Linked DNA regions of Homo sapiens: all the other regions are linked to region 3. The links come from fine-mapping of genetic effects on gene expression. A gene starts in region 3. Each other region holds a variant in brackets. All regions are shown on one strand. Distances are from middle to middle.

Region 1 (8,137 bases), 800 kb after region 3:
TGCTGCAGAGCCCCCTGACCCGGCCCCGGCCCGGCCCCCGCTGGCTCCGGAGCCGCAACTCGGAGCTGCGTCAGTTGCGTCGCCGCTGGTTCCACCACTTCATGAGTGACTCCCAGGGACCGCCCGCCCTGGGCCCCGAGGCTGCCAGGCCCGCCATCCACAGCCGAGGTAGGCGCTCAGCTGCATTTGGGGGAGCTGTTCCCAGGACCCCCCATTCAGGGTCACAGGTTTGGTGTCCCCTTTCTCTCTGCAGGCCTGTGGCCTTCACCGCTAGATGGTTCTTTCCTTCTGCTCTGCAGGACAGGAAGGGGCCTGCGATGCGAAGTCCTTCAGGGTTTTGCTCACTCACCAGCTGGAGTTCCACATGGCTCAAGGCTGAGATGTTGTGAGCAGGTCACTTAGCGCTCCGGCTTTGGATTCAGACAGACATTGGCTGGAATCCTGGCCAACAATTTTTTTTTTTAATCTCAGAGAATCTAGTAGGACAAGTTTCATTGAATATATGAAAATAGGTTGGGCGCAGTGGCTCATGCCTGTAATCCCAGCACTTTGGGAGACCGAGGCGGGCAGATCACTTGAGGTCAGGAGTTCAAGACCAGCCTGGCCAACATGGTGAAAGCCCATCTCTGCTAAAAATACAAAAATTAGCCGGGTGTGGTGGCGCATACCTGTAATCCCAGCTGCTCGAGAGGCTGAGGTACCAGAATCGCTGGAATCTGGGAAGCAGAGGTTGCCGTGAGCAGAGATCGGGCCACTGCACTCCAGCCTGGGAAGGAGACTCTGTCTCAAAAAAAAGAAAAAAAAAAAATTAGACGTGTCACTTAATGTCACCAGGTCTGCCTGAAATGGAGCTAAAGACGCCATTCCTGGGCTATTGTGACAAGCAAATGTGATAACACAGAGGAATGGGTCACAAAGTGGGGTCCCTGACCAGCAGCATCAGCTCCGCCTGGGATCTTGTCACAAGTGCAAATTCTCAGATTCTCCCGGAGTTGCCTAGTCAGGAACTCTGGGGTAGGGGCCAGCAGGCTTTGTATTTAACGCTGTCTCCAGGTGAGTCTGATGCATGCTGAAGCTGAGAACTCCCAGGACAGAGGCCCTGGTATATTATTTGGCACTCTAACTGGCAGCTATTATGACTTAATAAAAGCAGCTAATGCATATGGGATTTCCTATGCACCTGTAAGTCTGCTGTTTACAGGTATTATTATTATATCGCAGTTTTACAGGTAAAGAAACCAAGGCATGGAGAAGTTGAGTCAATTGCCAAGGTTATTCTCTTAGTGTGGGTTCCCTAGAAGCAAACTCTGAAACCAGGATTCACGTGCATCCAGTATATTTGGGATGTGATCCCAGGGAACACTAGTGGGGGCGCGGGAAGTGGGACAGGGAAGGGAAGGCAGCCAGTGAAGGGTGTGTTATCAAGCAGGTTACAAATGGGCAACCAGACTTCATCCGGCTGGAGGCTCAGTACCAGAGCAGAATACACATCTCAAAGGACCCGCTGGAAGTGGCAGGCCTGGGAGACATGGAAGGGACACGGCAGGGTCTACCATCGTCACACTGCTGGATGCCAGCGTGGGGACAGTCTGGCTCCGGGTTGGAGCTGTTTATGCTGAATTATGCAGACTCTCTCTGCAGGGTGCAGCAAATGTGCCTGGTGCTTGGGGAGCTCCCAGTAAGCGTGGAAGTTGTTGTTGGAGGGTGACTGAGCTCAGTCAGCTTCTCAGCATCCCTGTCACCACCTCACTGGGCCCTGCACCCGAAGTCAGAAGAGGAACTGCTCTCTGGACTGTAATAAGTGTGGCCAGAGCACAGTGGACCACCTGGCAGAATATAAAAGGAGATGAGGCAGGAGGAGCACTGGGGCCTGGGTTAGGGAGGGCCACGAGTGCCAGGCCTAGGAGTTTGGCTTTATTTTGATCATGACGAGAAGGTTCTGTGGAAGAGAACGGAGCCCAAGCTGTCCTTACTTTAGGAGACTGACTGGTAGCTCAGTCAAATAAAGACTGGAGGGCTGTGGGTTCATGTCGCTGTGGAAGGAAGTTCCTTCAGAAATCATTCAGGCCATTGCACTTGCTGTAGGATTTCTCAGCAAGGCTCGTGTGTCAGAAGGGAGGGAGGAATGAGGAGCTGATGCTTCAGCTCATTTGACACAGGCATGATTTCTGCAAACTCTCCGCAACACACCAAGAGACTGGGTCTCTGTGCAGGTTTTATCAGTGAAACTTCTTTGGACTAAAGTATACTTGACCGGCAGGAGTCAACGTTACTTGAGAGGAAGCCATGTAAAATGCACACGTTTTAAAAATAGACCTGTGTATTGCCACTTATTGGGCATGTGACCTTGGGCATAGTGGGCTCAGTTCCTCTCTTCATTGCCTTCATTCCACGCTTACTGATGAGCCACCAAATGACTCTTCACGTGTGCACCTCACTGTGCCCTGGAGGAGCTCGGTCTGGTGATAGAGTCAGATATGCACCCAAATTATTTCTACAAAGCACGACCGAGGTCTGCTAGAGGCACGTGCGAAGTGGGCTGTGGACTCAGTGAGAAGTGACCTTTATAACTGACCAGCAGCCTCCCAAAGCGCTAGGATTACAGGCGTGAGCCACCACGCCCAGCCGAGGCAGGCGGATCACCTGAGACTAGGAGTTTGAGACCAGCCTGGCCAACATGGTGAAACCCTGTCTCTACTAAAAATACAAAAATTAGCCAGGCGTGGTGGCACGTGCCTGTAATTCCAGCTACTTGGGAGGCTGAGGCAGGAGAATCGCTTGAACCCAGGAGGCAGAGGTTGCAGTGAGCCGAGATCGCGCCACTGCACTCCAGCCTGGGCGACAGAGCAAGACCCTGTCTCAAAAAATATATATAATAATAATAAAAATAAAAATAGAAGTGACCAGCAGAGGGGAGGGCTCAGCCCTGACTGCAGAGTGTATATGTCTCAGGGAACCAGTGAGCCCCCCTTTACTTTAAGTTACCCCTAATGACTTACAGAAGTGATGGAAGGGGCTCTAGTAAAAGCTAGAGAGATTGTGGCTAGATATAAGCAGGACTGATATCCAAATTTATATACCACTATGGTCTTATCAGTTGTTAAAATAATTA[T/C]AATACTTCCAGGTTGGCTGGTAAATGGTTGCTGCCCTGGGCCGCTGGGGTGCCATCTACACTCTGGCTGCCTCCCCAGTGGCTCCCAGACCTCCCCCTTATCCAGCAAAGAGAGGGTTAATGTGATTCCAGTGCCAAATGGTGGCAATTCTGAATGGTCAGTGCCCTCCATAGGTTGTCAAGTATTGTGAATGTGTGCCAGGACCGAAGGAAGAATTTGCTCTCCTTTGAACAGCAAAACAACCAAGTCTGGGGAGGCTGTGCTCTCATGGTCATCAGAGAATGGGGGAAGGCAGGGTGCTGGCCTGCAATCCCTGTGGGCCCCTTCCTGTCGTGGGGCTCCATGGGCCAAGCACAGCCAGTCCGGCCTCACTGGTGGAGAGTAGCCTGCAGCCCAGCCCTCAGGACAGCTGCTGGGGCCTCAAACAAAGCGGGTGTCTCTTTGTGGCCCGGGCAGCCCGCCATCCTCCTGAAAGGGGATCCTGTAAGGCGCGGAAGCTGCAGGAGGCTCCATCAATCACTGAGCATTTCATTATACCTTGGACAACATCCATAATGGAATAAAATGTCTGTAAGTTTACTAGGGGAAAAATAGTAACTTCTCCATAGCCAGTTTGTTTTTTATTGATAGTAATTTCCAAAGACATTCCAATATCTTCAAAGCCGTCGTTACTAGCCTCACGGTATGTCCATTTTGATGTGCAAATGAACAGATGCAGAGTGACAGACAATAATGCAATGCCTCCATTTCAGCTGAAAGGAATAAATCCGCCTCAGAGTGGGTCCCAGTGTATCCCTCGGAAGTTCTTTCTTTCCTGAACATTCTCGCCTCTGTCGGGGAGTTAGAAAAGCTGTTCATTCTGCGTCCAGATAAAAGAGCTCGCCTCCTCTTTTATCCCCGTCGCACACTGAGACGGGGCCAGCCAGGCCCGGGCTCGCCCTCCACGCCGGTGAGCTCCATCAAATGGCCAGCTGGTCACAGGTGGGCCACTCCCTGTTTCCAGAAGAACCAGAGCCTGACTGCTTGAAACAATTTTTTTTCTCTCTTTTATTAACGTGTTAATTATTCAGCTAATATTTACTGATCCATCCATCACACGTCCCAGGTTAGAGTGTAGGATCAGAATAATAATGGCTGTTATTTATTTGGACATCTGTTATGTGCCAAGCATTGTATTGTATAGACATACATCTGTTATCTCATTTAATTTAATCTTCAAACAGCCTTATGATGTAAGTGCCGCTATCACTGTTTTAATGATGAAGAATTTGAGTTTCTGGGAAGAAAAGTAATTTAAATGTTTTCATTATTAATAACAATATATTAACAGTAAAAACAATCGCTGCTGAGTAATTACTGCATGCCAAGCCTTGTATTAGACATTTTACATGTGTTACCTTATGGAATTTTCACAACTACCTCATGGAATTGGAACCGTATCCCCATTTTATAGATGGGGAAGTTGAGGCTCAGAGAGAGGCAGCTGCACATCCCAGCTTGCACAGCCAGATAGTGGTGGAGCCTATTCCCAAAGGCTGTCTCCATCCACTTCCTCAGAAGCATGTACAGCCTGGGAAGCATGTACAGCCACGTGCAGTCTCAGTCTGGGAAGGTCTTGAGCCCAAGCACCTTGAAAACCTTGTGGTTAATTTCCCATCTACAATGATAAATGTTTAATAATCCTGAGCTTATGCTTTGGCTGTTTAATTGAAAGCTGAAATGGAACTTCTTTGCTGAGCAACCCATCAGAAATTTCTCAAATATTAGTTTTCTTTTACTAAGTAGGCAGGCAGAGGAGAAGGATCCATTCTCACTGACCCGGGTGAAAGCTCTGTGCAGTGGTCCGTGCTGGTGGCGGTGGACCTGAGACTTACAGAAGTAGAGAGATGCACGTGGGACTGGATGTCTGGGCAGTGGAGGGCAGTAGCATGTGCCTGTGGGCGTGGCCATGTGTGCTGATGGGCGTCCCCAGATGAAGGTGACCTCAAGAGGCTCAGAGCCTGGCTGGGAACCAGACCCTTTGGCAAACACTGGAGAAGGTGGCCGTTGTTCCCTCCTCAGCCCTGGGGTTCTGTGGTCCGAGGGTCTCCTGGGTCCCTTGGGTCTTGGTGTGGTGGGGAGTCCTGTCTCCTGCCATCTCGCTTGTTCTCCTCTGCTTTGCCTTAACCTGGGGCCCTGGATATTGCACCTTGGTGCAGTCAGTAAGACCGTCCTGACTTCATATATATATATATATATATATATACTTATGTACTTCATGCATTACTGCTAGTCCCCATGGATAATAAATAGTACTATAATTGTTCATTCATATATATATATTCAGACAGAGTCTTGCTCTGTCACCCAGGCTGGAGTGCAGTGGCATGATCCCAGCTCACTGCAACCTCCACCTCCTAGGTTCAAGTGATTCTCCTGCCTCAGCCTCTGGAGTAGCTGGGATTACAGGTGTGTGCTACCACATCCAGCTAATTTTTGGTATGTATATATTTTTTGTATTTTTAGTAGAGACGGGGTTTCACCATGTTGACCAGGCTGGTCTCGAACTCCTGATCTCAAGTGATCCACCCGCCCCGGCCTCCCAAAGTGCTGGCATTATAGGTGTGAGCCACAGCACCTGGCCCCCTTCTTTGTATTTAGGCTCTCTGCTAAGTACAAAGAAAAGTCACTCCCCGATTCAGGCCCAGAAGTGGATGGTTGGCAGACTTCCTCCCCTAGGCCACTCAGCAGTGGCCCCACTCCCCCAGCCGCTGCCCTGGACCAGGCTCTTGGCAGGAACAGAGACAGTCTCCCTTGCCCTCACGGAGCATCCAGGCCTGTGGACCATCAGGACTTTTCTCCTCACTAAAAAGCCGCTTGGGAGCCACTGGCAGGCTGCTGGGAGGTCCTGGGCATGTTACTTCCCAGAGACAGCCTAATTTCTCTGGAGGCAGTGGTGCGCTCCCCAGGTGACATGAATGAGCGGAACGCGGCCCTTCCTGGGGAGACGTGCAGCGTGTTTATCACAGGTGCCCGATCCAGATCTCGGCGCAGCTATTGTGGGTGTGCGTTCACGGCTTGGGGACTGTGTGACGGCGTGTTTGCAAATTCCCATGCCGCTCCTTCAAAACACTGGTGCGCGTGACATTTACATGCCTACCCGCGTTTGCATCAGGACTGCCATCTCCCAACTTCTCTGTGCATCTCTGGGAGATGTCTCCCTCCCTCGGGGTGGCAGGGCAGGGCTGTGACAGACTCTCACTGGCGCGTGCACGGCTGGCTTCTCACTGCAGCATGAGTGTCCCCAGTATCCCCTTCCAGGGATGTGTGCAGGTGACCAGCCTGGAGAGGCCTCTGCGGTCACTTGGCCCTGTTGTTTCCCACACAGGACACTTGCTCCCATTCTTAACAGACTCTGCGGACACACTCCAGAGATGGGGTCTTACTCCCTCTTGGGACGACAGACTTTATCTTGAAATAGCTTTCCCCGTTTGAAAGATCTTCCTTAAATTTGCTAAAATCAAACTTGCCCTAACTGATTTCTTCTCTCTGGCCCCCAAGGAGGCAACGACCCTGTCTCTCAGGGCATTTGCCAAGGTAGAGAGGCCTCTCTGAGCCCAGGGAGGGCAGGGCTAGAGAGGAGGGGTAGAGTCCATGAGAGGTAATCCAGCCTTCCCAACTTCTGAGTTGGGGTAGTGGAAGAAAGCAGTGGTCAGGCCGACGCCTGGCTCCTGGCAGAGCCGTCAGGGTGGACAGTGGGCCATTAAAAAAGAGAAAATGGGCAGGAAACAAACAAGTGGGAGGTGTCAGATGCTCACTTTGCTCAGCACTGAGTGGGAGGGAGGTAGCCTGCAGCACTCATCTCCCGGGTTTCTCTGAGAGTGGCCTTGGCCAGGAAGGCAGAGGTTCCCCTGGCTTTTCCTAAGGGTGGGCCCATGATTCCTGGGCCTCTGGTATTAGCCATGCTTCCCTTTCTGCAGGCACCTACATTGGATGCTTCAGTGACGATGGCCACGAGAGGACTCTGAAAGGAGCTGTGTTTTATGACTTGAGAAAGATGACTGTCTCCCACTGCCAGGATGCGTGTGCTGAGCGGTGAGTGCTGGGGCCCTGGACTGTTGATTCTAGAGGCAGGAAGGTCCAGGGACAGTTCCAGAATGAGGAGGCATATCAGCTACCAGTTGGCTGTCATAGCATAATTGGAACTCACTGCTCAGATCCCAGTTTTCCAGAAGAAAGGAAGTTTGTTGGCAGATGACCTGGGTGCCGGGAGCTGGGTGCTGGGTGATGGCCTGGGTGCTGAGAGCTGGGTGACCGCCTGGGTGCTGGGAGTTGGGTGATGACCTGGGTGCTGGGAGCTTGGGTGCTGGTGCTGGGTGCAGGGAGATGCGACTTCCAGTCCAGCCATAGCAGGGACTCAGCGTGTGACTTTGATGAGTTCTTTTCCTTCTCTGGGCCTCAGTTTACTTATATATTTTACAATAAGATAAAGGGCTTTAACTGAGATTTCTCTGAGAGGATCTTTCCAGCTCTGGTAGGAAAAGTATTTTCACCTTGTGTCTATAACAAGGTTTACTTTTTCTGATACTTCCAGCTCACCCAGTAGTTGCCAGACACTTGTCATGTGCCAGGGAAATGGTTCCTAATGTCAAGGCCCTCACAACTGACTGTGTGTCTGTGTGTGCTGCACACACACACACACACACATCTGAGAGAGGTGGGTTAAACAGAATCAGACTTCCCTCTTCACTTATTTCTCCCACAGATTTTTTTCACCTTTTTTTTTTTTTTGAGACGGAGTCTCGCTCTGTTGCCCAGGCTGGAGTGCAGTGGCGCGATCTCCACTCACTGCAAGCTCCACCTCCTGGGTTCACGCCATTCGCCTGCCTCAGCCTCCCGAGTAGCTGGGACTACAGGCGCCCACCACCACGCCCGGCTAATTTTTTGTATTTTTAGTAGAGATGGGGTTTCACTGTGTTAGCCAGGATGGTCTCAATCTCCTGACCTCATGATCTGCCCGCCTCAGCCTCCCAAAGTACTGGGAT
Region 2 (8,119 bases), 28 kb before region 3:
ACAGTGGAATATTATTCAGCCTTAATAAGAGAGGAAGTTCTGGTACATGCGACACCAGGAATGAATCTGGAGGATGCAATACTAAAGTGAAGCAAGCCAGACATAAAAAATAAACATTGTGCCTGAGCGCGGTGGCTCACGCCTGTAATCCCAGCACTCTGGGAGGCCGAAGCAGGCAGATCACTTGAGGTCAGGAGTTTGAGACCAGCCTGGTCAACATGGTGAAACCCCGTCTCTACTAAAAATACAAAAATTAGCTGGGCATGGTGGTGCATGCCTGTAATCCCAGCTACTCAGGAGTCTGAGGCAGGAGAATCACTTGAACCCGGGAGGCAGAAGTTGCAGTGAGCTGAGATCGTGCCACTACACTCCAACCTGGGTGACAGAGCGAGATTCTGTCTTTAAAAAAAAAAAATTGTATGATTCCACTTATATTGAGGTACCTAAAATTGGCAAATTCATACAAAGAGAAAGTAGAATGATGGTTGCCAAGTGCTGGCGGAAGGGGAAAAAAATTCGTTGGTAAAATTGGAATCATATTTCACACATCAAAACTAATTCCAGATTTTAGTTAAAATTTAAATGTAAAAAAATAAAACAAATATTCTTAAATATTCATGTCATGAATAGTAAATATAATTTGTCTTCTTTATGATTTTCTTTTTTCTTTTTCTTTCTTTCTTTTTTTTTTTTTGAGAGAGTTTCGCTCTTGTTGCCTCAGGCTGGAGTGCAATGGCGTGATCTCAGCTGACTGTAACCTCTGCCTCCCGGGTTCAAGTGATTCTCCTGCCTCAGCCTCCTGAGTAGCTGGGATTACAGGCATGCGCCACCGCACCCGGCTAATTTTGTATTTTTAGTAGAGATGGGGTTTCTCCATGTTGGTCAGGCTGGTCTCGAACTCCCGACCTCAGGTGATCCACCCACATCGGCCTCCTAAAGTGCTAAGTGCTAGGATTACAGGTATGATGAGCCATTGCACCTGGCCTTTTTTTTTTTTTTTTTTTTGAGACGGAATCTTGCTGTGTCGCTCAGGCTGGAGTACAGTGGTGCAATCTCTGCCCACTGCAACCTCTGCCTCCCAGGTTCAAGCAATTCTCCTGCCTCTGCCTCCCAAATAGCTTGGATTACAGGAGCCCACCACCATGTCCGACTAATTTTTGTATTTTTGGTAGAGATGGAGTTTTGCCATGTTGGTCAGGTGGTCTCGAATTCCTGGCCTCAAGTAATCTGCCTGCCTCAGCCTCCCAAAGTGCTGGGATTAGAGGTGTGAGCCACTGCACCTGGCCTATGATTTTCTTAATAACATTTTCTTTTCTCTATCTTACTTTACTGTAAGAATACAGTATATAATACATATAACATACAAAATGTGTTAATCGATTGTTAATGTTATTGGTAAGGCTTCTGGTCAACAGCAGGCTATTAGCAGTTAAGCCTACTATTGACCAGAAGCCTTACCAATAACATGTGGGATGTCAACTGCACCAGGGGTTGGCACCCCTAACCCCTGTGTTGTTAAAGGGTCAACTATTCTTATTTTCCAACCTAATGTTGCCCTCCTCAGAGAGGCTTTGATTTTATCTAAAATAACATCCCTCAGTGAAAAATTACCAAGTATTCAATAAATCTGAAAAATACTTTCATGATGAAGAGAAAAATCAATTGCAACAGACCCAGGAATAACAGAGATGATGAGATTAGTGGACAAGAGCATGTTATGTAGAGACATAGAAGATATATAGATACTGATAGACTATGTATGTATATATGAGTGTATCTATCATCTATCTCTTCTAGAGATGAAAAGTACACTGAATGGAATTTGCAGCAGATTACACACTGCAGACCACAGATTAATGAATTTGACACAGTAATAGAAATTATCCGGGCGGGCCGTGGTGGCTCACACCTGTAATCCCAGCACTTTGGGAGGCCGAGGAAGGCGGATCACCTGAGGTCAGGAGTTCGAGACCAGCCTGGCCAACATAGAGAAACCCAGTCTTTACTAAAAATACAAAATTAGCCGGGCGTGGTGGTGCATGCCTGTAATCCCAGTTACTCAGGAGGCTGAGGCAGGAGAATCACTTGAACCTGGGAGGTGGAGGTTGCGGTGAGCCGAGATCACGCCACTGCACTCCAGCCTGGGCAACAAGAGTGAAATTCCTTCTCAAAAAAAAAAAAAGAGAGAAAGAAAAAAGAAAAAGGAAAAGAAAGTAATCTGAAGTGAAATACAGAGAAAGACAACGGCTGAGAATAAATGACAGTGAGTTGGGGGATAACTTCCAGAAGCCTAATGTACGTGTAACTGGAGTTTCCAATAACCGAGACTCCATTTCCAAAAGGAGGAGGTACAGAAAAATATATTCAAAGAAATAAGGGAAAAATTTTTCCTAACTTGATGAGAATGATACACCCGTAGATAATACACCCACCCAGCAAGCTCAATGAACCCAAAGCACAAGAATCATGAAGAACACTAATCAAAGTGCATCTTTTTTTTTTTTTTTTTTTTTGAGACGGAGCCTCGCTCTGTCACCCAAGCTGGAGTGCGGTGGCGCGATCTCGGCTCACTGCAAGCTCCGCCTCCTGGGTTCACGCCATTCTCCTGCCTCAGCCTCCCGAGTAGCTGGGACTACATGTGCCCACCACAATGCCCGGCTAATTTTTTTGTATTTTTTTAGTAGAGACGGGGTTTCACCGTGTTAACCAGGATGGTCTCGATCTCCTGACCTCATGATCCGCCCGCCTCGGCCTCCCAAAGTGCTGGGATTACAGGCGTGAGCCACCACGCCCAGCCCAAGGTGCATCTTAATCGGGCTACTTACAAACAGCAATGAAGAGAAGATATAAAAGCAGCCAGAGAAAAAAACAAATATAAAAATGACAGCAATCTTCTTTTTGGGAGTTAATGTGATGCAGAAGATGCTAAAGCAACATTTAAAAAGTACTAAAAGGGCCGGATGCTGTGGTTCACACCTGTAATTCCAGCACTTTGGGAGGCCAAGTCCGGTGGACCATTTGAGGTCAGAGTTCGAGACCAGCCTGACCAACATGGTGAAATCCGTCTCTACTAAAAATACAAAAATTAGCTAGGTATGGTGGCACGTGCCTGAAATCCCAGCTACTGGGGAGGCTGAGGCAGGAGAATTGCTTGAACCTGGGAGGCGGAGGTTGCAGTGAGCTGAGATCATGCCACTGCACTCCAGCCTGGGTGACAGAGCAAGACTCTGTCAAAAAAAAATTAAGAAAGAAATAAAGAAAATCGAAATAAAGAAAATCAAAATAAATGAAAGTTCTATCATATTCATGGATCGTAAGACTCAATATTGGTAAGATTTCAATTCTCCACAAATTGATCTACAAAATCAACACAGTTCCAATCAAAACCTTGGTGGGCTTTATTTGGTAGAATGAGCTGATTCTAAAATTTATTTAGAAATGCAAAGTACCTAGAATAGCCAAAATAACTTTGAAGCAGAATAAGTTGGAGGACTTACTACTTGATTCAAGAATTCTCATAAAGCTACAGTAAAAAAAACAATGTGTTATTGTTGCAGGTAATACATAAATAGATCAGTGAAACAGAAAAGAAAGTCAAGCAATAGACCTGCACATATATAGTCAGTTGATTTTTTTTTTTTTTTGAGATGGAGTCTCGCTCTGTCACCCAGGCTGGAGTGCAATGGTGCGATCTCAGCTCACTGCAACCTCTGCCCCCTGGGTTCAAGCAATTCTCCTGCCTCAGCCTCCTGAGTAGCTAGGTTTACAGACGCATGCCACCACGCCCGGCTAATTTTTTGCATTTTCAGTAGAGACGGGGTTTCACCATGTTAGCCAGGATGGCCTCGATCTCCTGACCTTGTGATCCACTCGCCTCAGCCTCCCAAAGTGCTGGGATTACAGGCACGAGCCACCTCGCCTGGCCATGGGTGCGGTTTATTTCATGTCAATCATAACTCAATAAAGCTGTCAAAAAAAAAAAAAAGAAAGAAAGGTGAGCCTGGGGTTGGGAAGGGTGAGTGTCAGTCAGAACATGGAGAACTCAGAAGCCAGACGGAGGGGTGTAGACGATCCCCCGGTGATGGGCCAGCACCCGAGCATTTCAGAAAGGAGTGGGTTGTGGGAAGCCAACACTGTCAGCAGGATCTGGAATGGATTGGATGCCAAAGAAAGGAGTGTGGGCAGGAGCTCCTTGCAAGGTACCTACTATAGTGGTGGGGGTGGATTCTAGAAATAAAAGGGGGTCATTTGGAAATGAAGGCGAGGTTAGAAAAAGAAAAGGAGGGAGAAGCAACTGGATCCATGACAATTTAGGGCCCGTCCCCCAGCTCCCAAAGCAGTCATTTGATAAACCAAATCGAGGGCAGAGAAGGCTCTTGGAAGCTTGAAAAAAAATTCCTGCTATGTCTGCTTCTTTCTGGTTTCTACCCTGTGTACAGGGTCCTGTGACCACAGCTCTTTCTGCTGACCGCAGCTGGGTATTCCTGCCTATGGAAAAAAACCACTCACTCGGCCCCGCTCACTCAGCAAAGGGGCCCGTGCTCCTGCTCCTGCACCCAACTGGCCTTCAGGACTGCAAGAGGCCCCAAGGGGCCAGCTCTTCCTGCTGCTCTCAGGGGCACCACCGTTACCCTGCCCAAGCCAAGAACTGTTTTCTCTCTCAAGTCAAGTTCCTCCTTTGGTCTGCCTTCTATCTCTCTAGGTGTAATGTAAGCCATGAATATTCATCCTGCCAAAGAGCCTGGAGTCAGTACCTGACTTTTCTGCTCACTTCCTCTCTACCTTGGTCCTACCTCAGTTTACTCCCAAAATGCTGCACCTACCACTATGCCCTGATTAACAGATGACCCCATCAGGTGACAGGAATCTAAATATAACTGTGGCTGGGTGGCTGACTTCCTGTGTGTGCTCAAGGCAAGAGACTAGGAA[T/C]TGTGCCTTCACCAAGCCTGTAGATCCAGATCCTTGCTGCCTGAGACAGCCCTCAGGGTACAAGCTTGCAATCTGATGACAGAGAGAAGGGGAAGGGAGAAGAGGGGTGTGTGGTAGGAGACAGCTTGGTCCAGAGAAAGATGGGTGCCAAAACCAAGGCCAGAGGCAAAGTTTAGAGCCTTGAAAAATGACTAACATCAGTAAGGGATGGGTTCCTGTAAACTTTATTCTACCTAATGAGGAATCTGCGAGCCTTTGATTGACATCATAATAGTAAACTTGTGCCTGAATACCATGCCCAAGCCAACTGTTTCATTCTTTCTTCCATTTATTTATTCATCCAGCAAATATTCATTGAAACCCTGGTGGCTCCAGACTGACCAACATGGTGAAACCCCGTCTCTACTGAAAATACAAAAATTAGCTGGGTGTGGTGGCGCATGCCTGTAATCCCAGCTACTCAGGAGGCTGAGGCAGGGGAATCGCTTGAACCGGGGAGGTGGAGGTTGCAGTGAGCTGAGATTGTGCCACTGCACCCCAGCCTGGGGGACAGAGCCAGACTCTGTCTCAAAAAAAAAAAAAAAGAAACTCTGGTGGCAGACCTACATCCTGCCTTCAAGGAGTGGGCCCCAAAAAATAAAACTAAAAATTACGAACAATATGAAAAGGGCTCCAAAGGGGTCTTCAGCCCAGATCTGGCAGAGGTTGGGTCAGGGAAGGTTTGTTAGAAAAGATTCCATTCACACTCAAGTCCCAAAGGGTTTGTAGGAATAAGCTGAGAGAGGTGTGCCAGGGTCGGACAGATGGGCTGGGAAGACTCTGAGGGAGCAGTAAGCAGTCTGGATATTGGGCACTTAGGGTGAAATGGCATTGGGGGCCGGGATGAGGTGAGGCAAGGCTGGGCATACTGGCAAGTTCCTAATCTTGAATGCCTTCATTCACTCACTAACTCACCGAACAAATATTGATTGATTGATTGATTGATTGAGACAAAGTCTCACCCTGTTACCCAGGCTGGAGTGCAATGGCGTGATCTCAGCTCACTGCAGCCCCCGCCTCCTGGGATCAAATGATTCTCCTGCCTCAGCCTTCTGAGTAGCTGGGATTACAGGTGCCTGCCACCACGCCTAGCTAATTTTTGCATTTTTAGTAGAGATGGGGTTTCACCATGTTGACCAGGTTGGTCTCGAACTCTTGACCTCACGTGATCTGCCCACCTCGGCCTCCCAAAGTGCTGGGATTACAGGTGTGAGCCACCGCTCCCGGCCTGAACAAATATTTATTAAGGACCTACTCTGGGTCACACATTGTGCTGGGATCAAGAATAGTTTTGGCACTTTGGGAGGCCAAGGCAGGAGGATTGCTTGAGCCTAGGATTTTGAGACCTTGTCTCTATTTTTTTTTTAATTAGCTGAGTGTGGTGGCATGCACCTGTAGTCCCAGCTGCTCAGGAGGCTAAGGTGGGAGGATCACTTGAGCCCAGGAGTTGGAGGCTGCAGTGAACTATGATCAAGTTGCTGCACTCCAGCCTGGGCAACAGAGTGAGACCCTATCTCAAAAAATAAAAAATGTTTTAAAAAATAGTCCTGGATTCATTAAGAAATTTGCAGGCATTGGAATGATCTCCTGAGTTAGGTGATTTTACCACTAACAACAAAACATTTTTGAGCACACGCTGCCAACTATTCCAATTATTTGTTTATAATTACTCATACGACTATTATTATTTTTCTCAGGACAGACTATATACTGAAGGTGAAAGGCATTGTTAGTGATAAGGGATGTACAAATGTATTGCAAACACTCTTTTTGATAATTTCTCTCACTCCCTCTTGCTCATTTGCCAGATTTTTGGCAGATCTGATGAGATCATGTTTTTACCTATAATGTGGCTAACGAAGGACTTCTATTATGAAGAGAAGAAGCATCAGGTCTGCTATTTCCTTTTTTGTGGCTTGTGCTGGCTTTATTAGTTTATATTCAATCTGTCTATCTTTGCAAGCCCCATGTCCAGTTTTTGAGGGTTGGGTTAGTGGTAACGATAATATAATCAGAAAAGCTCAGCCGGGCGCAGTGGCTCACACCTGTAATCCCAGCACTTTGGGAGGCTGAGGCAGGCAGATCACGAGGTCAGGAGATCAAGAGCAGCCTGGCTAACATGGTGAAATCCCATCTCTACTAAAAATACAAAAAAATTAGCCGGGCATGGTGGCATGAGCCTGTAGTCCCAGCTACTCGGGAGGCTGAGGCAGGAGAATCGCTTGAACCCAGGAGGCAGAGGTTGCAGTGAGCCAAGATCGTGCCACTGCACTCCAGCCTGGGTGACAAAGCGAGATTCTGTCTCAAAACAAAACAAAACAAAACGAAAAAAAAAAAAAAAAGGCCAGGTGCAGTGGCTCATGCCTGTAATCCCAGCACTTTGGGAGGCCGAGGCAGGCGGATCACAACGTCGGGAGATCAAGACCATCCTGGCTAACACAGTGAAACCCCGTCTCCACTAAAAATACAGAAATTTAGCCGGGCGTGGTAGCGGGCGCCTGTAGTCCCAGCTACTTGGGAGGCTGAGGCAGGAGAATGGCGTGAACCTGGGAGGCGGAGCTTGCGGTGAGCCGAGATCGCACCACTGCACTCCAGCCTGGGCAACAGAGCAAGACTCTGTCTCAAAGAAGAAAAAAAGCTGTTTAGCTGCATCCATTTAAGCTGCAATGCAACACAGTATGGTAAAGGCAATGACCCCACTTGCTGTTGTGTCCCCTACCTGCAGGCAGGCTTCCCCTCTTCCATCAGACACTGTGCACCTGGCCCTACCCGAGGTGATCTGAGCTACACACCAGGATGTCAGTGCCAAACTGCAAAATATATATCAGCCCGATTTGATGTATGTCAGTCTTGCTACATTTAATACAAAATCACACGCTAGTGGGTCATTTCGTGGATTTCTGGAAATAGAACCCAGGCCCTTGGCAGCTGCTATCTCTTATGTCAGAGGTGGAAAAAGCTCTGATGTAGCCTATAGCAGGTATTGAACATGAGATCCTTGATTTTCCTGCCTAATGGCCTCCAATGGCCTCTCATTGCATCAGAAAAAAATCCACATCCAGGCCAGGCGCGGTGGCTCACGCCTGTAATCCCAGCACTTTGGGAGGCCGAGGCGGGTGGATGACCTGAGATCAAGACCAGCCCAGCTAAC
Region 3 (8,124 bases):
TGTTGCCCGGGCTGGAGTGCAGTGGCGCGATCTCCGCTTACTGCAAGCTCCACCTCCTGGGTTCACGCCGTTCTCCTGCCTCAGCCTCCCAAGTAGGTGCGACTACAGGCACTCGCCACCACGCCTGGCTAATTTTCTGTATTTTTAGTAGAGACGGTGCTTCACCGTGTTAGCCAGGATGGTCTCCATCTCCTGACCTCGTGATCCGCCCGCCTCGGTCTCCCAAAGTGCTGGGATTACAGGCGTGAGCCACCGCACCTGGCCAGTTTGTTCATTTTCATTGCTGTAGAATATTCCATTGTATGTTAAAACTTTTTTTTTTTTGAGGCAGAGTCTCGCTCTGTCGCCCAGGCTGGAGTGCAATGGTGTGATCTTGGCTTACTGCAAGCTCCGCCTCCTGGGTTCACGCCATTCTCCTGCCTCAGCCTCTCCAGTAGCTGGGACTACAGGCACCCGCCATGATGCCCTGTATGTTAAAACTTTTTAAAAATCTAGTCCACTGTTGATGAACATATGAGTCCTTTATTTATCGTATTATGAACTATGCCACTGTGAATATTCGTGTGTCTCCTGGGGCACATGGGCAATGTCATTGGTAACTAATTATTTCATGTGTTTATGTCTTATTCCCAATTTCCTTCAGAACATAAGAATCACATCTTTTATACTTAGTAAAGACTTTGAGCATACATTTGTTTTCCTAAAATATATTCCTAGGGGTGGAACTGCTGGGTCTTAAGGTTTACCTAAAAATACGAAAATGTTCAATATTCTTGATGCTCCTATCTGATTTCAAAATGGCTTTTTAACTACTTCCCTCACATGGAGAGCCCTAGGTGTCCAAATCATATGCCTGACCATTTCTGAGGGACCTTGACTTGAGGGCCTGGCTTCAAGCCTCATTATCAATGGCAACAAATTTGCCACTCTCTCACTGGAAGGAGCCCCTTCTATTTTATTTTTATTTATTTCTTTTTTTTGAGAGGGAGTCTTGCTCTGTCGCCCAGGCTGGAGTGCAGTGGTGCAATTTTGGCTCACTGCAACCTCTGGACCTCCTGGGTTCAAGCAATTCTGCCTCAGCCTCCCGATTGTAAGTGCCCAACACCACGCCTGGCTAATTTTTGTATTTTAGTAGAGACAGGGTTTCACCATGTTGGTCAGGCTGGTCTTGAACTTCTGACCTCAAATGATCTGCCCGCCTCGGCCTCCCAAAGTGCTGGGATTACAGGCGTGAGCCACCACACCTGGCCGCATCTGCTATCTTTATGGCTTATGCCTCGTGTTAGTCATCACAACAATACAGAGGATGCACTGGGCTGCCCTATCCTGGCCAAAGGTCTTCCTGGTAAGCATGGATTTGCTCATCCAGGAAAATCATTTATGGGGGGTTGGGCAGGGTGTTGGGGAGACCCTGCTTGCTCTCTCAAATGCACACCAGCCATTTGGGAGACATTAACTGCTCAAAAAACTCGAGTCTGTATTTTGGCTCTCCTCTAACGATGGCAGGACCTGGGGCAAAAGTACAAATAGATACCTAAATTATTTAAAATTACAAACCAGTTTGGACGTGGTGGCTCACACCTGTAATCCCAGCACTTTGGGAGGCCGAGGTGGGTAGATCACTTGAGGTCAGGAGTTCAAGACCAGCCGGGCTAACATGGTGAAACCCTGTCTCTACTAAAATTACAAGAGTTAACTGGGCGTGGTGACACACGCCTATAATCCTAGCTACTCAGGAGGCTGAGGCAGGAGAATCACTGGAATCCGGGAGGTGGAGGTTGCAGTGAGCTGAGATGGTGCCACTGCCCTCCAGCCTGGGCAATAGAGTGAGAGACTCCGTCTCCAAAAATTAAATAAATAATAAAATAAAATAAAATTACAAACTACTCCAATTAACCGCTAACCTTAATACAGTCTATCCTTCTACTTGGACAAATCTACCTGTTTAAGACCTGGAAGACCAGGTTTAAATTTAGAATTCCTGGGCTCCTGGGAGTTATGCCCATGAATGAGGTGGCGAAAGCAGCACAGGCCCTGGCCCAACTATTGTCTCTTGGCTCACTTGCCTTCTTTTCTCACCTCTGTCCTGCACCATGAGGGATCTGTGGACATAGGAGCTCAAACACCCAAGTGTCGTGTCACCCCCTTAAAATAAAACAAAGCTGCCCTTTAGCCTCCCTTTTTTTCAGTGAGAAATAATCATTTTAATAAAAGTATACCTTATTTAAAACAAATGATTTAAAGAAAGTAGAAACTGATTCTAATTAGTGGATTTTCTGATTATTATTATTATTATTTGAGATGGAGTCTCGATCTGTCGCCCAGGCTGGCAGTGGTGCGATCTTGGCTCACTGCAACCTCCGCCTTCTGGGTTCAAGCAATTCTCTGCCTCAGCCTCCCGAGTAGCTGGGAGTACAGGCGCCTGCCACCACACCCGACTAATTTTTTGTATTTTTAGTAGAGATGGGGTTTCACCATCTTGGAGAGGCTGATCTTGAACTCCTGACCTCGTGATCCACCTGCCTCAGTCTCCCAAAGTGCTGGGATTACAGGCGTGAGCCACTGTGCCCGGCCTATTATTATTTTTTTATTATACTTTAAATTCTTGGATACATGTGCTAAACGTGCAGGTTTGTTACATAGGTATACATGTGCCATGGTGGTTTGCTGCATCTATCAACCCGTCATCTAGGTTTTAAGCCCCGCATGCATTAGGTATTTGTCCTAATGCTCTCCCTCCCCTTCCCCCCACCCCCCACAGGCCCCGGTGTGTGATGTTCCCCTCCCTGTGTCCATGTGTTCTCATTATTCAATTCCCACTTATGAGTGAGAACATGAGGTGTTTGGTTTTCTTTTCCTGTGTTAGTTTGCTGAGAATGATGGTTTCCAGCTTCATGCATGTCCCTGCAAAGGACATGAACTCATTCTTTATGCTTTCACTTTAGCTTCTTTTAGGGATGTCTAGACTCTGCCATAGAGAGAATGGATCTGGGAAAGAGACCACAGCTTCAGCCATCTGGAAAGGGAATTCTGGGGCCACAAGTATTCAGAACTTGGTCCTGAAGTGCCAAACCCTGTGGACTCCCTCATCCTGGGGTGGGATTGCTGGGTCTTAAAATGTACATAATTCCTGATGCTCCTCTCTGATTTCAAAATAGCTTTTTAGGCCGGGCGCGGTGGCTCACGCCTGTAATCCCAGCACTTTGGGAGGCTGAGGCAGGCGGATCACGAGGTCAAGGGTTTGAGACCAGCCTGACCAACATAGTGAAACCCCGTCTCTACTAAAAATACAAAAATTAGCCGGGTGTGGTGGCGTGCGCCTGTTGTCCCAGCTAGTCGGGAGGCTGAGGCAGGAGAATTGCTTGAACCCGGGAGGCAGAGGTTGCAGTGAGCCGAGATCGCACCATGGCACTCCAGCCTGGGTGTCAGAGTGAGACTCTATCTCCAAAAAAAAAAAAAAAGCTTTTTAAACTACCTCCTTGGCATGGGGCACTCCAGGTGTCGAAATCAGACGGGGAGTGGTGATTAGAGGGGAGTTCCTAAAGTATAGGGCCCAGGGGCCCAAGTATAAGGGCCACACTTTGTGTATATGATTTCTCCTTTCCTGCCATGAGTGCAGGGTCTGTACCTGGCTGTATCTCCAGCATCTATCACGACTGAAAACCCAAACGTATTTGCTGAATGGATAGTATACTGGCCTCTGCACCAGAAGACCTGGGGTCCAGGCCCAGTACTGTCGGAAACAGTTCTTCATACTTTATTACCTCGTTTAAACTTTTCTTAGCCATTATATTGATAAAAATTCCAAGAGGTGAAGTGACTCTCCCAAGGTCGCAAAGCTAGAAGAGGTAGAGGCTGGAACTGCACCCCGCCATCGGTCCTCCTCTCTTACTCATTTTTTTTTTTCCCCTCACTGTGCTGGGGTGGAGAACCGGGACCGGCACCTTCGAGAGGCCAGGCCTCTGCTGCAGCCCCTCTTCTCCAGCTCCGCTCGGCACTCAGCCTCCCCGCGCCGCTGGGTCAGGCGCCCAGCTCCGCCGAAACCCTCCCCTCCCGCCGCGCTCCCTCCGCGCTCCCTCCGCGCTCCCTCCGCGCTCCCTCCGCGCTCCCTCCGCGCTCCCTCCGCGCTCCCTCCGCGCTCCCTCCGCGCTCCCTCCGCGCTCCCGAGGCCCCGCCCCTCCCCTCGGGCCAACGTCACGTGCCGCCCCATCCCCCTGCGCCTGCGCACTGCTTATTTCCCGCTGTCAGGATGAGGAGGCGGAGGTCGGCGGTCGGGTCCGTCTCTGCCCGCGGCTGTGGCGGCGCCGGCGGATCCAGCCTTAGCGGTTTCTCTCTGGGCGGCGGCGGCGGCGGCTCGGTTGACGCCTCCTCCGCCAGCTGAGCCCGCGGGAGCCCAGGACGCCGCTTCCCCGCCCATCCCCGCTCCCCGAGGCCGGCCGCCTGGTCATGGCGCAGCCGGGCCCGGCTTCCCAGCCTGACGGTGAGGCGCCCACCATGGCAGGCGCGGCGGGCGCGGCCTGCCCGGCGTCGGCGTCGCGGGAGGATTTCGGGGCGGGCAGGCGGCGGCAAGGGCGCGCGCAGGCCCCGGGGGTGACCCCGCCGGGCGGAGGCGGGGGCGCGCGGGCTGCGGCGCGCGAGGGCGGCGCGGGCGCCCCGGCTGCCGTCGCTGGGGAGGGGGCGGGAGGCGCGGGTGCAGCGCTTGCGGGAGGGCAGAGGGAAGGGCGTGGGGAGGCTGCTGGGTAGCGTGGGGTAGTGTGGGGAGGGAGCGGTTCTGGGTAGCGGGGGACCGGCACGTGGGTTCTGCCCGTGGGGGAGGATGGAAATCGGGAACATGTGCTATATTCGTTAAAGAAAAAAAATCTTAGCTTAGGTAGTGTACCCTCCCTGCCGCCCCAATCCTTGCTATAGAACTCTTTGCACCCAGTTATGTGACCTGAAAGTAGTTGTGTACAGTAACTGGATTTAGTAGCATTCCCTGAATGGCAGTGTGGCTTAATGGTTAAGTGTTGGGGCCTGGGAGTCTAGAGGACCTGTATTCTTAACCAGCAAGCTCTGGGCTCATTTCTTAGCCTCGTTGAGCCTCAGTATTCTCACCCACGAATTAACCAAGAGGTTAATTCATGCCTTTATATTTTATCTATAAAAATAGCAACACGAATGTGTATATACAATAATAGTATTATGGAGGTATTAGGAATAATGAGAATAGTGTTTGAGAATGCTGAGGCCTACTTGCACTACTTGAAGATATTTGCTTGTGGAACTAAAAAAAAAAAAGTGAAGTCGAAGAAATGTGTCATTTATATTCTTGGAAGGAAAAAAGGGCCCCATCCTAAATAATCAAAGTTGGTTGTCAGAGCCCTTCGTGACCTTCTGGGAAATTGGACTAAGCTGTGCTTCACAGATTGACTACATGGTTCCAGGTTTTACCACCTAGAATAGATGTTTGGAAATAGTGTGCTTGGGCTTTTCCAAGGTCCCACTGTATCTAGTTGTGAAAGTACTTTCTGGTGTATTTCTATAATCAGCGTGTGTGCTTAGCATCTTTAAGTGTGAGTAGAGTAGAATGTTGGGAAAAGGGGCTTGGTACGGAGTAGGTACTTTAAAACTTGGCTTTCCTTGGGGTTGTCTCAAAATAACCTTTCGTGAAACCCTTACTTTTTATTTTTGCCTTTGGGGAACTTGAAACCATGTTATCAGATTTTAAGGTTCTGGCTGCTCTCTGGGAAATGTGCTTCAGAGCCTGTTAGCCTGTAGTTTTGGGTGTTGTTGCTTGCCTAAGGGGAGATGTCCAGTAAGCATTTAGACTTTTATAAGAACCTGCTTTGCTGTTTCTGTTCCAGGAGAAGGGAAGGGAAGCATTTTTGGTGGGCTGTCAGAGAGAGGAAACTGGGATGTCTTCAGGCTGCATTTTAATGATCACCTTTTGCATTTGGTGTCAGGCAAGAAAACTTTGTTCTTCCACAATCCCACTTTGTTACTGCACACAGAGGCAAGATACAGAGAGCTTGTGGTTCTGAACAGGAGTGGTAGGTATGCATAGCTGGCTGCTGCCTTCTCTTGAGTTGCATGGAAAGAAACGTCTAGGGCAGCTCAGGTGACATGACCGTCTGGAATCAAAATTCCCTGCCTCTTTGAAGATATGAAATGGTCTTCCTTGTAAATAGGCAGAAGTGACTAAGCACTTGAACGAGGCTAGGGAAAACTAGCTTTAGGAAATCTTGTATTCTTGGTATTTTAGTTCAGGTTTCTTTCCTATTTCTCAAATCTTGTGACTCTAGGATGAGATTTAGTTTGCATAGATTGCAATTTTTATTTTAAATTAATGTAGGTAGCCATGGCTACTTTTTACAGTAGGAGAGAGATAATTTGGTACGTTTGAGTGCCTTGTGTCAGTGCCTTAGAAGTTCATCTTGGGGATTTTAATTTTTTTTTTTTTCTTTGAGACAGTATCTCACTCTGTTGCCCAGGCTGGAGAGCAGTGGCGCGATCTTGGCTCACTGCAGCCTCGACCTCCTGGGGTCAAAGCAATCCTGCTACCTCAGCCTCCCAAGTAGCTGTGACTACAGGTGCATGCCACTATTCCCAGCTAATTTTTGTATTTTTGTAGATACGGCGTTTTGCCATGTTGCCTAGGCTGGTCCCAAACTCCTGAACTCAAGGGATCCACCTGCCTACACTTCCCAAAGTGCTAGGATTGTAGGTGTGAGCCCGTGAGTCCGGCTTTTGGGGATTTAATTTGTGTCTTTAGCTGAACTCATGTAGACCATTTTAGCTTTAGGCACGTTTGAATTTCCTAGTCCTGCTGATTAAAAAAAAAAAAAATCGCCAGAATTCTTTTGTGTCAAACTGGTGGTGAAAGATAACTAACTGCTTAGTCTTTGACTTTATCTTGTTTTATCCTGTTTCAGAAGCGATTGTCTTTGATGACTTTTTAAAAAAAAAAAAATATTGTCTGTTTTTCATGGCCATATGGTAGATTAGGAAAATCGATTTGTGTGTAAATCGAAGGGATGAAATGTAATCATTTTATTCATTGTAATTATTTTGTAAGTTAAAAAAAGTTTTGGGTTTTTGATACTGCATCTTAGTTTACTTATTTGGAATACAGGTAATTTTAATAGTTAAAGAAATTTCAGTTGATCTGTTTTCCCTTGAGAATTTAAAAATGAAAATTTTCTAATTTTAGTATTTCTTTTAATCTAAGTTCAACTATATCTTTGAAGCATTTGCTCTGGTTTTACTTCACTTTTTTTCTTTTTTTTTTTTTTCTTTTGTAGAGAGGGTCTCATTGTGTTGCCCAGTCTGGTCTTGAACCCCTGGGCTCAAGTGATTCTCCCATCTTGGCCTCTCAGTGTTGGGATTACAGGCATGAGCAACTGCACCCAGCCTACTTCATTATTTTTTATTCTTGCCATGTTGGCCAGGCTGGATTCCTGATTGTTTCCTGTTAGTTACACAGACATGCTACCTTTTACCCCTGAAGGACATGCTTTACATACATAAGTCTGCAACTTCCCTATCTCACTTAATAAATGTTAGCTATCATATTATATACTCATGGTTATATGGCCATGTAATGTTCTGCAAACACTATAGGCATTATCTTAGGAAATCTTCATAGCAATGGTACTATTGAATATTACTGCTTCTATTTTCTTGATGAGGAAACTGAAGCACACAGAAGTTAAAGAAACGTGCCTGTGTTATACAGCTATTAAGTGGGGGAGCAGGATTCAAATCCATGCCATCTGGCTTATGTACTAGATCATGGACTACTTCCAGGTCAGTGTTGTAGGCCTTCTTCATTCTTCTTAAAGACGATCTTATCATATGCATGTACCAGGCATGATTTATGGCCTATTTCCCTATTGTGGGGCAAGTAGATTGTTTTCAAATTTTAATTATTTTATAAGCAGTGTTGTAATGGATGTCCTTGTGCATATTTTTTAAGGTACTCTTTTACTTCTGTAAGACTAGTGAATTAAATAAAGGGCATGAGTTCCGAGTGGTTTAAATTTTAATACCTGTTGCTAGCTTACTCTCCAAGGCATCAATTTACATACTTGCCAACGATATATGGCAGGTGGATTTCCCCTGTAATCCTACAAGCTCTGGATGATG
Region 4 (8,000 bases), 76 kb after region 3:
TTCTACAGTAATCACAAGGAATGTTCTGTGTAAATTTTTTTTTTCAAGGATCATTTGAAGAGGCGGTTTTGCTTTCTTTTATTTTGCCTTACTTTATACAGTATACTTTTCTTGGAAGCTGCTTCCTGATTTCTTCTTTATACCAGTGTTCTTAGTTTGTGCTTATAATATTAAAATATTTTGTAATGGCCAGAGGCCCTTAGATGGGATTACAAAACAAAGAAGCGTAAGTATCCAGTTTTCTCTTATCATAACGCTCTGTTCTTTATTTGTTTTGAATGGTTAAAGAACTGTGTCACTTATTAAGTAGGTTACTTGGGTCATATATATGTTTTTTTCTTCCTTTTAGGAGGATGATGAACAACAAAGACTCAATAAGAGAAAGGATCACAAAAAAGCAGATGTTGAGGAAGAAATAAAAATACCAGTAGTGTGTGCTTTAACTCAAGAAGAATCTTCAGCCCAGTTATCAAATGAAGAGGTATAGTGAGTCTATAATTAAAGTCATTAAATACACAATGTCAACAATTTTAGCTTACTCATACATCAGTTAATTACATTGTTCATATGAGAAGTGAGAAGTGCATAGCTACGAGGTGAAAGTTAGATAAAAATGACAGTATTTTCAGTTGTTTTTATGGCATTATAGGTAGCACTATTTGAAACATGTTGCAGCTTCATTCGCTGTCTGAAATAGATGTTCTTTTTTCCAGTATTTCCAAAATTTAATACATTAGAATAAACCTTTAAATAATGTCTGCAAAATCTTTTTTGATGTGAATAGTACATGTTGCTAATACTTGTCTTTTTTGTTTAAAAAGAGATTATCTAAAGCGCTGAAATGCTTAACTCCCTGTAGCATATATGAGAGTATTAACCAGTATTAGGTTTTCATCCCTGACGGCCATGGGTGAGGTTTGGCAGATAACACCACAGGGTAAAATGTTTCAGGTACTAGGAATGGGTAGAGTAGAGAGACCTGGAAGTGTTAGGTGTTCTGTGGCCTTGTCACCTCTCACCTACAGTGTGGCAAGGGCCTCCTCATTGGGTTTCCTGCCTCAACCTGTCCCATTCCACTGCGTCCTCAGCATTACTGTCAAATTCATTTTCTTAAGTGCAGCTGCAGTCAGGCCACTCCCCTACTCAAAAACTACCATTGACTCCCATTACCTATATAATTAAGCACACATTCCTCACTCTGACAATTAAGGCCCTTCATCATCTGGATTACATTTTAGCCATGTTGGTCATCATCTTGGGCTGTATTCCCACTTGGTCTGTTGGTTCCTTCATTTGGAGTACTTTCCTCCCATTGCCTTTCTGAGTATTGAAATCCTTCTACTCATCTTTCAAAGCTCATCTTGTTATCAGTGAAGGAACTGCTTCTCTTATTGCCTTTAGAATAAAAACTAAGATCCCCCAAGATCCCTAGCATGGCATACAAGGGCATTCACAGTTGAATGGCCCTTCCAGCCTCACTTACTGCTCTCCACCTCTCTGTAGCCAGACCTGTGCACTTACTGTTCATGCTCATGTGGCCTGTCCCTGCGGCTTAGAATCACACTCACTTCCCTGCGGCACCTCCTTTCCTGGCCTGGTGAATGAATTGCACTTAAATTGGATACAGGTCTTGTCTTTACTTTCAGGGGTATCATGTTTCTATTTACTTTGCAGATTTACTTTGAGCCATACATAATCTACATCCTGGTGGTTATATATATGCCCATGCTTACAGATTGTTTGATGTTTAAGAAAAACTTAAAAAAAATTTTAGTAGACACTAAAAAGTGCTGTATATTGAAGTTGTTTTGTTCATTCTTTGTTCTGGGACATAGACTGGGAACCACTTGGTCTAATTCTGCTGTGCATTTTAAAAATATTTAGACTCCCAAGAGAATGTCTCAAGTTTTGGGTACAGCCAATGATTACATAGTGTTTTCATCATGCAGTAATCTATCCAGGAATGTTTGAAAAGTGGGAAAACAGGAAAGGGACATTTGTTGTGATTTACAGAGAAGTATTTTTATTTTTGATTCTCTCTTAACAGATCCGTAGACTTTCAGAGCTGGTGTTTTGCAGTTTGAATGTTGAATATAATTGTTTTGTATTGAGAATAATGACACAACTCTTGGTTTAGAGTTAATCTGAAGCCTAGCTAACATGGTGTGAAACCCTATCTCTACTAAAAATACACAAATTAGCTGGGCGAGGTGGTGGATCCCTGTAATCCCAGCTACTCAGGTGACTGAGGCATGAGAATTGTTTGAACCCGGGAGGTGGAGGTTGCAATGAGCTGAGATTTTGCTACTGCACTCCAGCCTGGATGACAGTGAGATCCTGTCTCACACACACAAAAGTTAATCTGAGATGCTTTGGAGAGTTGGATTTATGGCTAAAGATATTTGAAATTTGTAGACCTCACATTTTCTTTAACCTGATGCTTATAATATGCTTTTCTCTCTACAAAATGTTCATTATGGAAAATTTGGGAAGTATAGAAAACACCATTCAAAATAAAAATAACTGATAGATCATCCTACCCAGAGGTAACAACTAATATTTTGGTATGTATCTCTTTCTTCCTTTCCTTATTTTCTTTTCCAGAGATAATATATATGTTAACATATGTTAACATATTTCTTTTTTTTTTTTTTTTAATTTGAGACAGGGTCTCACTCTCACCCAGGCTGGAGTGCAGTGGTGCAATCTTGGCTCACTGCAGCCTTGACCTCCCGGGCTCAAGCGGTCCTTCTGCCTCATCCTCCTGAGTAGCTGAGACTACAGGCATCCGCCATCGTGCCCAGCTAATTTTTTGTAGAGACGGTGTTTCAACATGTTGCCCCGGCTGGAACACATGTGTTTCTATTTGCACTTTTTTTTTTAAATTTGAGACAGGGTCTCACTTTCACCCAGGCTGGAGTGCAGTGGCGTGATCTCAGCTCATTGCAACCTCTGCCTCCCAGGTTCAAGCGATTCTCCTGCCTCAGCCTCCTGAGTAGCTGGGATTACAGGCATGAGCCACCACGCCAGGCTAATTTTTGTATTTTTAGTAGAGATGGGGTTTCACCATGTTGGCCAGGCTGGTCTTGAACTCCTGATCTCGTGATCCACCCACCTCAGCCTCCCAAAGTGCTGGGATTGCAGGCTTGAGCCACCATGCCTGGCTCTATTTGCACTTTTAAAACATAATCTAGATTATAACTACATAGTGTTTTGTGCAAATTTTTTCCCCAACTTAAATCTACTCTAAGGTTTTGGCACATCATTAAATGTTTTTCCCTGAAATGATATTTAGTGGCTGACAGAATTTCAGCGTGTCAATGTACCATAATTCTTTTAACCAATTCCCTACTAATTGATTTGTGACTTTTTTTGTTTTTTTGAGACAGTCTTGCTGTCTCACCCTTGCTGGAGTGCTATGGCGTGATCTTGGCTCACTGCAGCCTCCACCTCTTGGGTTCAAGCGATTCTCGTGCCTCAGCCTCCCGAGTAGCTGGGACTACAGGTGCACACCACCACGCCCAGCTATTTTTGTATTTTTAGTACAGACAAGTCTTCACTATGTTGGCTAGGCTGGTCTCGAACTCCTGGCCTCAAGTGATTTGCCCACCTCGGCCTCCCAAAGTGCTGGGATTACAGGTGTGAGCCACCGTTTCCAGCTTCTGCCTGGTTTTTAATTCATAATGGTGACTGAGTGATGACATAGGGAGTTCAATGCCCCTGAAAAAAGTTTTGTGTTACTCACAGTTCTCCTGGAAGCAGAGGTACAGCACACCTTGCATGGCCACAGCAGGGAAGCACCAGAGGTGGTCAGGAGGCAGGAGCAGGAGCGAGAGAAAAGCATGGGCCATAGCTATTATTGTGGTTTCTTTGGGAAAAGCAAAGTGGAGCAGAGCAGAGGGTTTAGGACTGGCTGGTAATTAATTCCAGCAGCCTTTGGGGTATAGGGTCTGTTCTTAGCTGTCTGGAACTGGCCCTGGGTTCATTTAGGGCAGGGGAAATACTGGCTCGGTGTGTGACTTAGGTAAGGGAGGTGGTTGGGATATGGGTTTGGGATTGAATGGTTTGTGTGTGAAAGGCATGTTTACAGTTAGGTGAGTTGTTTATTATCTCTAGAAATTAGCTAGTCCTGGGAAGCAGTTTCTTCACAGCCAGCAAGGCCTCCAGTAAATCAAAACATTATGAAATACAGAAAATGAAAAGCGTGATTAACACACTGATAGTCAAGTTGGTTCCATTTTTTACTACTATACAATTTTTCGTTATAAGTAATGTCATAATGTTATATATAATTTTTCCTTGTACAAAAATCATTATGGATGCATCTGATTTTATTTTATTTTATTTTTTAGTGTGAGTTCTTAGGAAAAGAACTGCCTGGCCGGGCATGGTGGCTCACAAGTGTAATCGCAGCACTTTTGGAGGCTGAGACAGGCGGATCATTCGAGGCCAGGAGTTTGAGACCAGCCTGGCCAACATGGCGGAACTCATCCCTACTAAAAATACAAAAATTAGTCGTGCATGGTGTCTGGCGCCTGTCGTCCCAGCTACTCACTGTGGCTGAGGCATGAGAATCCCTCGAGCTCAGGAGACGGAGGCTGCAATGGGCTGAGAATGCGCCACTGCACTCCAGCCTGAGTGACAGAGCGAGACTGTCTCCAGGAAAAAAAAAAAAAGAACTGCTGAATTCAAGGATGTAAACATTTTTAAGATATTATTGCCAATGTAGTAGTCTGATGTGGGGTCTTTTGTTTTGTGTTTTTTGAGACAGGGTCTCGTTCTTGCCACCCAGGCTGGCTAGAGTACAGTGGCACCATCACAGCTCACTACAGCCCCGATCTCCTGGGCTCAAGCAATCCTCCTGCCTCAGCCTCCTGAGTAGCTGAGACTACAGGCGTGTGGTACCATGCCTGGCTAATTTTTAAATTTTTTTGTAGAAAGGAGTTCT[C/T]TCTATGTTGCCCAGGCTGGTCTTGTACTCCTGGGCTCAACCTATCCTCCCACCTCAGCCTCCCAAAGTGTTGGATTTACAGGCGTGAGCTACTGCGCCAGGCCTGTAGTCTGATGTTTTCTTTTTTTTTTTTTGAGACGGAGTCTCGCTCTGTTGCCCAGGCTGGAGTGCAGTGGTGTGATCTCGGCTCACTGCAAGCTCCGCCTCCCGGGTTCACGCCATTCTCCTTCCTCAGCCTCCCAAGTAGCTGGGACTACAGGCACCTGCCACCACGCCTGGCTAATTTTTTGTAATTTTTAATAGAGACGGGGTTTCACCATGCTAGCCAGAATGGTCTTGATCTCCTGACCTTGTGATCTGCCCGCCTCGGCCTCCCAAAGTGCTGGGATTACGGGTGTGAGCCACTGCGCCCAGCCAGTCTGATGTTTTTCAAATGGCCCTCACAACTGTTCTATCCCTAGCCCCTTCCCTCTTCAGTATCACAGCAGCACTGTATATGATACATAGCAGTGGGTGTTAGGGTTATTTGTAAACTAACAGAATGGCTTATCCCAGTTTTTATTAGGATACTTACTTGGGATCTTTGCCATAGTAAGCTTAATATATACGAGATTTGTGTTCTTAGCCATTGCAGTTTCAGATGAGTAACAATCTTTAAAAGGAAAGAAATGGAGGCATTAACTCAAAATTTGTCACCTTTTTATTACACCAAGAATATTTTTAAAACATTAAAAAAAATAGGTTACATGAGCTTGCCAGTAACAACAACTGTATTCCACAGTCTCCTCTGGTTCATTTAAAACAGGGCGTTTAACAACAAAACGTAGAAAGGATATTATCTTAAAACATTGTCATTTAAATGGAATAAATTTAGTTGGAAGGAAAACTTGTTACATTTTTCTTTAAATCATTTTTCTTATTTCCCACTAACTATGCAACTGCTTCATGTAATGGCACTGGTTTGCTTTTTGCCTTCAGGAATGTGCTGTACCACGTTGTTTAAAAATTGAGATAAAATTCATGTAACATAAAATTTAAAGTGTACAATTCAGTGGCATTGCATATATACACAAATGTTTTTAGTTTGAAAACATTTTTATCACTCCCAAAGGAGACCTCATAACCCATTAGAGTCACTCGCCATTTTCCCTTTGCCCTAGCCTCTAGTAACCACTAACTTGCTTTATGGCTCTATGGATTTACTTGTTCTGGACATTTTAAATAGATGGAATTACATAATATGTGACTTTTTGCATCTGCTTTCGCATAGTATACAACATTGAACATGTTGATTACACCTTGCTGGAAAATACCACATTCTTGGGCCGGGTGCGGTGGCTCACGCCTGTAATCCCAGCACTTTGGGAGGCTGAGGTCGGGGGATCACGAGGTCAGGAGAGCGAGACCATCCTGGCCAACATGGTGAAACCCCATCTCTACTAAAAATAGAAAACATTAGCCGGGCGAGGTGGCGGGCACCTGTAGTCCCAGCTACTTGGGAGGCTGAGGCAGGAGAATGGCGTGAGCCCGGGAGGCGGAGCTTGCAGTGAGCGGAGATCGCGCCACTGCACTCCAGCCTGGGCGACAGAGCGAGACTCCGTCTCAGAAAAAAAGAAAATACTACGTTCTCGTCATTTCCTTTCCACTACTCTGGCTTCTCCTTTGCTCATCCCCAAGATGTTAATCTTTCTCAGGGTTCTGCCCTTGGCCCTCTTTGCCTACACACTCATCCTACGTGTTCTGATTTGCTGCTGTGACTTTAATTATCATTATACGATAGTTACTCTCAAGTCTCTATCGAAAGACTTCTGTGTCCCTCTGTCAAGGGAATATCTCTGCTTGGATTCATGATAGGCACCTCGCGCTTGACACACGCCACACTGAATTGCAGGTGACGTTCCTCAACTGTTCGTATTTGGGAGCTCTTTGAGCTACCAGAGCATTCAGCACATAGCTCCAGCCCATCCTTTTATCACAGTATTATAACAGTCTGCTTACTTATCTTTTTTTTTTTTGAAGCCGTATGTATCTCGAGGTCAGGGATTATATCTTGCTCACAGTTGTATCCTGAGGGCCTGGTTTTGTGTCCAGCATGTAGAAATGACACTTAGTGTTTGTTCAATGAGTCTGTGAAGGTAGCACATTAATGATTATCATGTGTAATGAGTGGCGGAATACATTTATTATAGTTTTTGTCTTTAAAAACGCAGAGAATTGTCTAACTTGGCCATATGTATTTTCACATTTCAGGAGCATTTAGACAGCACCCGTGGCTCAGTTCATTCCTTAGATGCAGGCTTGCTGTTGCCATCTGGAGATCCTTTCAGTAAATCGGACAATGACATGTTTAAAGATGGACTCAGGAGAGCACAGTCTACAGACAGCTTGGGAACCTCGGGCTCATTGCAATCCAAAGCTTTAGGCTATAACTACAAAGCAAAATCTGCTGGAAACCTGGACGAGTCAGATTTTGGACCACTGGTAGGAGCAGATTCAGTGTCTGAGAACTTTGATACTGCATCCCTTGGGTCACTCCAGATGCCAAGTGGGTTTATGTTAACCAAAGATCAGGAAAGAGCAATCAAGGCGATGACACCAGAACAAGAAGAGACAGCGTCCCTCCTCTCCAGCGTTACCCAGGGCATGGAGAGTGCCTATGTGTCCCCTAGTGGTTATCGTTTAGTTAGTGAAACAGAATGGAATCTCTTGCAGAAAGAGGTGAGTTACCTTTCTCACGTTTTTCCTCTTGCTCACGCTGAGGCACACTGGGAAGCTCTGGGATTTAGCGTTCATTCAACAGACGGTTCCTGGAGTCAGTGCAGGCACATGTTGCCAGCAAGTGGATATTAACGTGTGTCACCTGACCCTTGTCATAGTCTGCCTTGGGTATTCCAGGTAATTGTGACAGAGAAAGGAGCTAGCTAGTTAATCACAGTGAATGTGAACCTCCCCACCTGAACTCACAGCTCTCAGGTTGGAGCAATCTGCCTGACTAGCATTGCGGAATTTAAGTTAGAGCAACCTGGATTTGGTTTGCTTTGCAGTTTTCTAT

The links.
Region 1: its variant is fine-mapped to the expression of RABEP1 in minor salivary gland (GTEx, PIP 0.97).
Region 2: its variant is fine-mapped to the expression of RABEP1 in whole blood (TOPMed, PIP above 0.99). The same link has a PIP of 0.9 or more in blood mononuclear cells.
Region 4: its variant is fine-mapped to the expression of RABEP1 in subcutaneous fat (GTEx, PIP above 0.99). The same link has a PIP of 0.9 or more in monocytes after LPS.

The regions. Positions count from the first base shown.
Region 1 is chr17:6,080,918-6,089,054 of GRCh38, forward strand. It overlaps WSCD1 (WSC domain containing 1), which reads left to right. Exons shown (of 9, transcript NM_015253.2): 2 at 1-168; 3 at 7,073-7,187. Among named protein-coding and RNA genes, the nearest start is that of WSCD1, 15 kb to the left of the region's middle. RefSeq lists an enhancer at 5,989-6,680. The variant T/C (reference allele first, on the strand shown) is at 3,113.
Region 2 is chr17:5,250,490-5,258,608 of GRCh38, forward strand. No RefSeq gene overlaps it. Among named protein-coding and RNA genes, the nearest start is that of SCIMP, 20 kb to the left of the region's middle. RefSeq lists an enhancer at 4,029-4,534. The variant T/C (reference allele first, on the strand shown) is at 4,930.
Region 3 is chr17:5,278,041-5,286,164 of GRCh38, forward strand. RABEP1 (rabaptin, RAB GTPase binding effector protein 1) reads left to right here and starts at 4,244. Exons shown (of 18, transcript NM_004703.6): 1 at 4,244-4,480. The coding sequence starts at 4,447. RefSeq lists a silencer at 3,964-4,683 and an enhancer at 6,531-7,049.
Region 4 is chr17:5,354,010-5,362,009 of GRCh38, forward strand. RABEP1 (rabaptin, RAB GTPase binding effector protein 1) reads left to right here. Exons shown (of 18, transcript NM_004703.6): 8 at 350-481; 9 at 7,199-7,666. It overlaps LOC105371505 (a long non-coding RNA gene), which reads right to left. Exons shown (of 2, transcript XR_934178.3): 1 at 7,676-8,000; 2 at 6,598-7,075. Among named protein-coding and RNA genes, the nearest start is that of NUP88, 62 kb to the right of the region's middle. RefSeq lists an enhancer at 7,873-8,000. The variant C/T (reference allele first, on the strand shown) is at 4,949.